Homo sapiens: one gene and its partner. The protein of the gene in region 2 interacts with the protein of the main gene of each other region in a pairwise test. Each region holds a gene or a part of one and is shown on either strand. Other genes may lie near its edges.

The links. Proteins that work in one complex are often made in the same cells at the same time.
Region 1: the proteins of MYOZ2 (region 2) and MBLAC1 interact in a two-hybrid assay, tested with the Homo sapiens proteins (one large-scale study listed by BioGRID).

Annotation. Positions count from the first base shown.
Region 1 is NC_000007.14:100,125,408-100,129,087, reverse strand, and holds MBLAC1 (metallo-beta-lactamase domain-containing protein 1), read right to left. Parts: upstream 2,122-3,680; 5' UTR 2,024-2,121; exon of another isoform or gene 1,917-2,023; intron 1,721-1,916; 5' UTR 1,693-1,720; coding exon 892-1,692; 3' UTR 593-891; downstream 1-592. UniProt on the Homo sapiens protein: Endoribonuclease that catalyzes the hydrolysis of histone-coding pre-mRNA 3'-end. Involved in histone pre-mRNA processing during the S-phase of the cell cycle, which is required for entering/progressing through S-phase.
Region 2 is NC_000004.12:119,163,271-119,166,921, reverse strand, and holds part of MYOZ2 (myozenin-2), read right to left. Parts: intron 2,712-3,651; coding exon 2,528-2,711; intron 1-2,527.

The DNA of each region.
Region 1 (3,680 bases), on a different chromosome or scaffold from region 2:
CCTCAGCACTTTGGGAGGCTGAGATGGGCAGATCACTTGAGGCCAGGAGTTTGAGACCAGTGTGGCCAACATGGTAAGACCCTTTCTCTACTAAAAATATAAAAATTAGCTGGACATGGTAGTGTGAGCCTGTAATCCCAGCTGCTGGGAAGGCTGAGGCACAAGAACCAATTGAACCCAGGAGGCAGAGGTTGCAGTGCAGTCTGCAGTACAAGATTGTGCTATTGCATTGCAGCCTGTGGGGACAGAGTGAAACCGTGTTTCAAAAAAAAAAAAAAATTAGTGGGGCATAGTGGCACTTGCCTGTCATCCCAGCTACTTGGGAGGCTGAGGCAGGTGGATGGCTTAAGCTGGAGGCTGCAGTGAGCTATGACTGCACAACTGCACTCTAGCCTGTGTGACAAAAAAATATGAACAAATACATAAGTCAGGTGACTAAGGGGTCATCTTTATGCCCTGTACCTTCTCTCAGCAACCTCCATCCTATAAGAAAGGGGCAATTGGCCAAAGTATGCCTCTGCTGTAGTTGTAGATTACCATGTTTGCACGATTATCATTGTCAATGCTTCACATTTACACTAGGGCACTATGATTTTCAATGCAGTTTCCATTTTTATTTTGGAGGCCCCTCCCACGAACCTTCTCCCATTTTACTGAGGCCCAGGGAGAATGCACAGGGAGCTGAGCCCCTCCTTTGATCTTAGTTTGGTGGCAGAGACAGGCAGTGATACTGACGATGTGATGGCAGTGTCAGGTGCACTCTGTCTTCACTAGAAAACTGGCCTCCTGGAAGGGCTGGAAGCTCCCACCCTTGACTGCTCTGACTCTGTCTCCAGCAGCTCTTCGCTGTTAGGGCTTCCCTGACAAGAGTGCAGTCCCTCTCGAGGCTGATTAGTGCAGGGCGGGCTCCTCGTCTCCGACCACCGGCTCCTGCTGGCTGTTCCCTCCACCCTCCGTCTCGGGCTGCGAGGCTTCCCTTAACACTCGAAAGGGGGGCCCGTGACCAGGTACGACCACGTCGGCAACGACCAGGACCCTCTTCCGGCTCCGCTCCTGGGCTGCGGGGTCTTCACTCAGTGCCTGCCACGAATCCTCGTCCCCATCTCGCTCAAACACATCTCCCGCCACCACCACGGTGCCCAGAGCCGTGCCGGCCACCACCACGCTCACGTCGCGCTGGCCCCCGTGGCCCGGCGTGGCCCACACCTCGAGCCCCGGGCCCAGGCGCAGGGGCTGCCCCTCACCCAGCCCGTGGGGCAGGTAGCGGCCTCCGGGAAGGCAGAAGTCGTGCGAGACCAGCAGAGCCGCGCCTGGGAACAGCCCCAAGTTCCCGATGTGATCCGAGTGCCCGTGGGTCCCCACCACTAGCGTCACGTCTCCCGGGGCCACGCCCTGCCCCGCCAGCGCCCCCAGCAGCGCCTCCCGAGCCCAGGGGCCCCCGGTGTCCACCAGGATGGGGCCACGGGCCGCCTCCTCCAGGGCGGCCTCTGCGCCGCCACTCCCGCGCGGGGACTCTCGGTGGCTGGAGGCCGGGCCCCGGGTCTGGGGTAGGACCAGGGTCACGGAGCCGTCGGCGCGCACGGCATCGCCCACACCCTCTGGCTCCGCGTAGCCCTGCAGCAGAACCACCACAGAGTAGGGGTCGCCGGGCACCAGCAGAGGGGATGCCCCGCACAGCGGCTCGGTCCGCATGAGGCTGCTCCTGGCAGGGAGGGACGGGCTGGGGAGAAAGGAAATGGAGCAGTGGGCGACCGTCCTGTCCCTCCGCGATCCCCCACCCGCGCTCGGCCCCGCCACTGCCCCTAAGCCTCGGTTCTCTGCCACCCGCCTCCCATTAAGTTGGTATCACCCTCAACCCCTGCCCAAAATGGTATCGCCCAGACTCCCTTCACACTTGGGCCCGCCCCTCCCTCGGCGTCCTCGGCCCCCGCCCCATTCCGTTCGCGGTACGTACGTCCTTGCCCGTCACCCTCCAAAGGCTATCCTTTATGTTTCCCTCCATCGAATCCTAGCCGCGCTCTACCTTGGGCCTCTGCTAGGTCTTGCCTCACTCGAAGAAAGCGCAGAAATCGAAAACGCGGGTGAGAGTTTGTCCTCTGCGGTTCCCGTGTACCCAGATATGGCGGCCGAAGCGGCGCCGCGGAGGTAGCTGTAGTTCCGGCGCCTTCACCGTGTGCCCGAGGAGGCTGCCTGGCTGGGCTCCAGCCTCCTGGCGGTTCTCCGCTCCGCAACCCCAGCAACTTCTTTGCACTGCAGAATTTTGAAGCGCCATTAGCTTTGAGGAGGGTTCATGCTCAGTTGCCCAGGCAGGAGTGCAGTGGCGCGATCATACCTCACTGCAGCCTCAACCTCCTGGGCTCATGTGATCCTCCCGCCTCAGCGTCCCGAGTATCTGGGACCACAGATGCGCACCACCAAGCCCAGCTAAGGTTTCTATTTTTTCTTTCTCTTTTTTTTTGGAGACACGGTCTAGTTCTGTTGCCAGGACTGGTCTGGAACTCCTGGGCTCCAGCGATCCTCCAGTCTTGGTCTCCTGAAGTGCTAGGATTACAGGTGTGAGCCACCGCGCCTGGTCTTTTTTTCTTTTGAGACAGTCTCGCCCTGTCGCCCAGGCTAGAGTGCAGGGGCACCATCATAGCTCGCCCCAGTCTTGAACCCCTGGTTCTAGCGATCCTCCTGCTTCAGCCTCCTGGAGTGCTGGGAATACAGGCGTGCACGCCCCTCTAAATTTTTTTTGGTTTTTTTTGAGACGGAGTCTTGTTCTGTCGCCCAGGCTAGAGTGCAGTGGCGTGATCTCAGCTCACTGCAACCTCCGCCTCCTGGGTTCAAGCGATTCTCCTGTCTCAGCCTCCCGAGTAACTGGGATTACAGGCGCCCACCACCATGCGTGGCTTTTTTTTTTGAGACGGAGTCTCGCTCTATCACCCAGGCTGGAGTGCAGTGGCACGATCTTGGCTCACTGCCAGCTCCGCCTCCCGGGTTCCCGCCATTCTTCTGCCTCAGCCTCCCGAGTAGCTGGGACTGCAGGCGCCTGCCACCACACCCGGCTAATTTTTTGTATTTTTAGTAGAGACGGGCTTTCACCGTATTAGCCAGGATGGTCTCGATCTCCTAATCTTGTTATCCACCCGCCTTGGCCTCCCAAAGTGCTGGGATTACAGGCGTGAGTCACCGCGCCCAGCCGCCCGGCTAATTTTTGTATTTTTGGTAGAGACGAGGTTTCTCCATGTTGGCCAGGCTGCTCTCGAACTCCTACACTCAGGTGATCCGCCTGCCTCGGCCTCCCAAAGTGCTAGGATTACAGGTGTGAGTCACTGCGCCCAGCCTCCAGGCTGGTCTTGACCTTTTGGACTCAAGTGATCCTCCCATCTCCACCTCTGCAGTAACTGGGACTACAGGCGCTGCACCACCAGCCCTGCAGTCTTCTTTGTGTGTGTGTGTGTGTGTAGAATTGGGGTTTCACTATGTTGCTCAGGCTGGAGCTTGAGCTTAACAAGACAGCGGCCATTCTGGGTGCTGCCTCATCGACCAGCTAGCTATGTGTGCCCGGCTGTTGTTTGAAACTTTGGGCCCAGCTAGTTTTTAGAAAAAAAGAAAAAAGTTTAATAGCGATATAGAAAATTGAGCACCTATAAAACTATATGGTGGGCTCTGGGTTACATTGAGCTTAAGTAGACCAA
Region 2 (3,651 bases):
CATTGGAGCACTCAGAACACACACAACATGTATTGATTAAGTTTGCCTTTTTACATGGGCATGGTTCATGACATCCCAAAAACAGTTACAATAGTAACATCTAAGATTGCTGATCACAGGTCACCATAACAGATATAATAATAATGAAATCAGAATATTGTGACAATTACCAAAGTGAGCACATGATGTTGGAAAAATGGCACCAATAGACTTGCTTGACACAGGGTTGCCACAAACCTTCAATTTGTGAGAAAATGCAGTATCTGCCAAGAAGAGTAAAGTGAAGTGCAATAAAACGAGGTATGCCTGTATACTGTTTAGTTGTTTTTTAAGTGGACTTCTAAAGCAATGCACGTACTAGACAATGTCTTAAACTTTGTGTATCCCTGTGCATATACTTTTTTTTTTTTTTGAGACAGGGTCTCTCTCCCATTGCCCAGGTGGGAGTACAGTGGTGTGATTATAGCTCATTGCAGCAGCCTCAACCTCCTGGGCTCAAGCGACCCTCTCGCCTCACTTTTTGAGTTCTTACTATGTTGTGCTGGCAGGTCTCAAACTCCTGGGCTCAGCTCACCTTGGCTTCTCAAAGTGCTGGGATTACAGGCATGTACCCCAGCCTGTACATACGCACCTGGCCTACATACGCTTCAAGGTTAGAAAGGATCTTACAGCTATCTGTTTGGGCTGTCTATGTATCATATCATGTTTTGTTTCATCCATTAATGTTATTTAATAATAAGAAGTCTAAGAATATACTATCATGTTGAAAGAATTTAATTCCTAAGTTTTTATTTCTACGTTGATGTAGATATGCAAAGGAATAAAATGTTCTAAAGTAAAAGAGAAGTATTAGCAGATTAAGTTTTCACACACACACACACACGCACACACACACAGCATGTAATATTTGCAAAAGCTTTGATTAACACAGGGAGCTACATTTCCTGTTGAATGGTATTGTGCTCACTGATATAGTACTCACCTGGTATTTATACAGTCAATAGGCATCTCTTTATAACTAACCCAAATATTACCACACCAGTGTGTGTAGAACTACAGGCAAGCTGCTCAGCAGGTACAGGGCACCAAAGCCACAAGATACAGAGAAGTCTTACAGCATGTCTTAAGCACTTAATCTCAAAAACAAATCCGAGTTATTCCATTAATTTCCATTTTCCCCTAATGTTTTACTTGTTATAATTTTCTACACTCTCATTTTGAAAAAAAAATTATAACATTGATCAGAATGGGCCTCCAACTTTCTTTCCCTGCCACTCCTCAACCCCTCTTTAAATTCTATGGTACACCTCTTTCATGCAAGGGATGCATTACTAATAATGGTAGTGTGCAAAAACTAAAATCTTAATAGTACAATATTTATTTTTATTTATTTTATTTATTTATTATTTTTTGAGACAAGGTCTCACTATTTGCCCAGGCTAGAGTGAAGTTACATGATTTCAGCTCACTGCAACTTCCACCTCCTGGGCTCCAGTGATCCTCCCACTTCAGCCTGCCAAGTAGCTGGGACTACAGGTACATGCCACCACTCTTGGCTAATTTTTGTATTTTTTGTAGAGACAGGGTTCTTGCTATGTTGCCCAGGGTAGTCTTGAACTCCTGGGTTCAAGTGATCCACCCACCTCAGCCTCCCAAAGTGCTGGGATGACAGGCATGAGCCACCACATCCGATCACTTAAGAAGATCACTGTTTAAATGCAGTCTATTTGGCATTCTTTTTTTAAATAAAAAAATTTACTCATTAATTTATTCATTTTTAAATGAATGGTTATTAAGCTGCCTATAAATTGAGTCTAACTTTTTTTGAGTGTGAGACAGCATACTAGATATTAGATATTTTAATATTTTACTCTAAAATGAAGGTCAAGTGATCAAATAATGGATTATGAGACTATTAAAAATTCAAAATATCCATGGAAATTATAAAAACTGAATAACAGAGAAAAATGGATGCCCATTCTATAAACTATACTACAGATATCATTTGGTGATATTTTTGATAGCATAAGTTTTGGGTTGTACCTCTTCTGGAATCTTGGGCCATTAAGTCTCTAAATTACTTTTAATCTGTCCTAAAGCCTGCAAAAATGTAAGATAGAATCTGGAGTTACACAGTAATTCTCATAGCCTTGCATGTGAATTATTTATTAAATTCTTGAACAGTATTGCCATTTGAAACAATGCATAAACCCAGATCAATCTTTGGATTTGAAACTATTATTAAAATAACATTTTTAAAGTATCAAGGGATAATCTTGATGTTATACCAATGATAGTTTCTGAATCATTTCCTTCATTTTTATACTAAAAATGACCAAGTTTGAAAATAATAGTAATATTACAAAAATGAGTCTTTGCCTAGGCTTAGAAGATATCCTATATTGCTATTTAGATTCTTTTCTCAAAAGAAAAAATTGCTTTCTACCAGGGAATTCAGTTATCTGTACCATGATGAAAAAATTTTGGTATTGCATGCCAACAGTGTCACCCAGGACCATTGAATTACCTGTTAAAGCTCCTGTAATCAGGCAGTTCTGCCTTTCCTTCAGGCTTGAAAAGTTTAGGATATAAAGCCTCTAAAAGCTCCGGATCATTGCTAATGGCTTGTTCCCAGGGAGATTGATAGTACTTAGGGACAGCTGTGGTGTTGAATTTTTCAGGAGGAATTTCCTTCAGTGGTCCAGAATATCCTTTGGAAAAATATAGCAAAAGTAAGTAAATACTGTGCCCGAGAGTTACTAACCTCCACCTAACATTTTACCATGTTTGATTTTTCATGCTGGGATAAATTTATGAAGCATGCATCCTTTTCATGATCCCTTAGAAAACAGCAGTCTGCAAGTGTTAGACATTTTAGAGCTCCTGTAAGCTTATGGAACTTTAAAAAGAAACCATTTTTCTTAATGTTTAATTTTTCCAAATTATACAGTTTTTTCTTGACTGTCTTAGTATATATATTTTTCCAGTAAAACTGTTCATTTAGTTTTCTAAAAATTGTGCTCCTTGCATTAATTCACACTAGACTTTAGATACCACAATTAATTAATTTAAAAATGTTAATATTGAGTGCCTATTGTAGTCTAAGGTAGGGGAAATCGCAATGCAGACAAAATCTCCCTCCTCCCAGAGCTGATTCTTTAGAGGTGATGTTTGGGTCTTGTCTGTCTTCAATTGCTGAGTGCTCTGTAAAATGTTTGAGCTTCAAGAAGATGAAGTAACTTGTTCCCACGGCCTTATTCAGGCCCAGCTCTTCTTATCTCCCAATGTACCCATCCCCTTTTTATTTTGTTCCTCAAGATTTCTTACCTAGCTTTTCTGCTTCTGATCTCACCTCCCCAGTTTATTCTTCCCATAACAGCTGGGAATTTTCTGTAAATACTGTTTAAAAGTCACGGAAATTCTTGGCATAGATCTTTAAACCTTTTTCACATGCATAGAGTGACACTCTTCCAGTTTTCTAAGGCACAGTTATCTACTTTCTGTTTACACTGCCATATTACCTAGTTATATCCCTGCAATTCTCTCTTCCACCATGTCAAATCCCTTTACCACTTGATGACTTCTACTTTTAGATTTCTCTGATGCTCTTTCCCATCTCTGCAATAATTTTGATTTTCTTCTGTCAAAGCA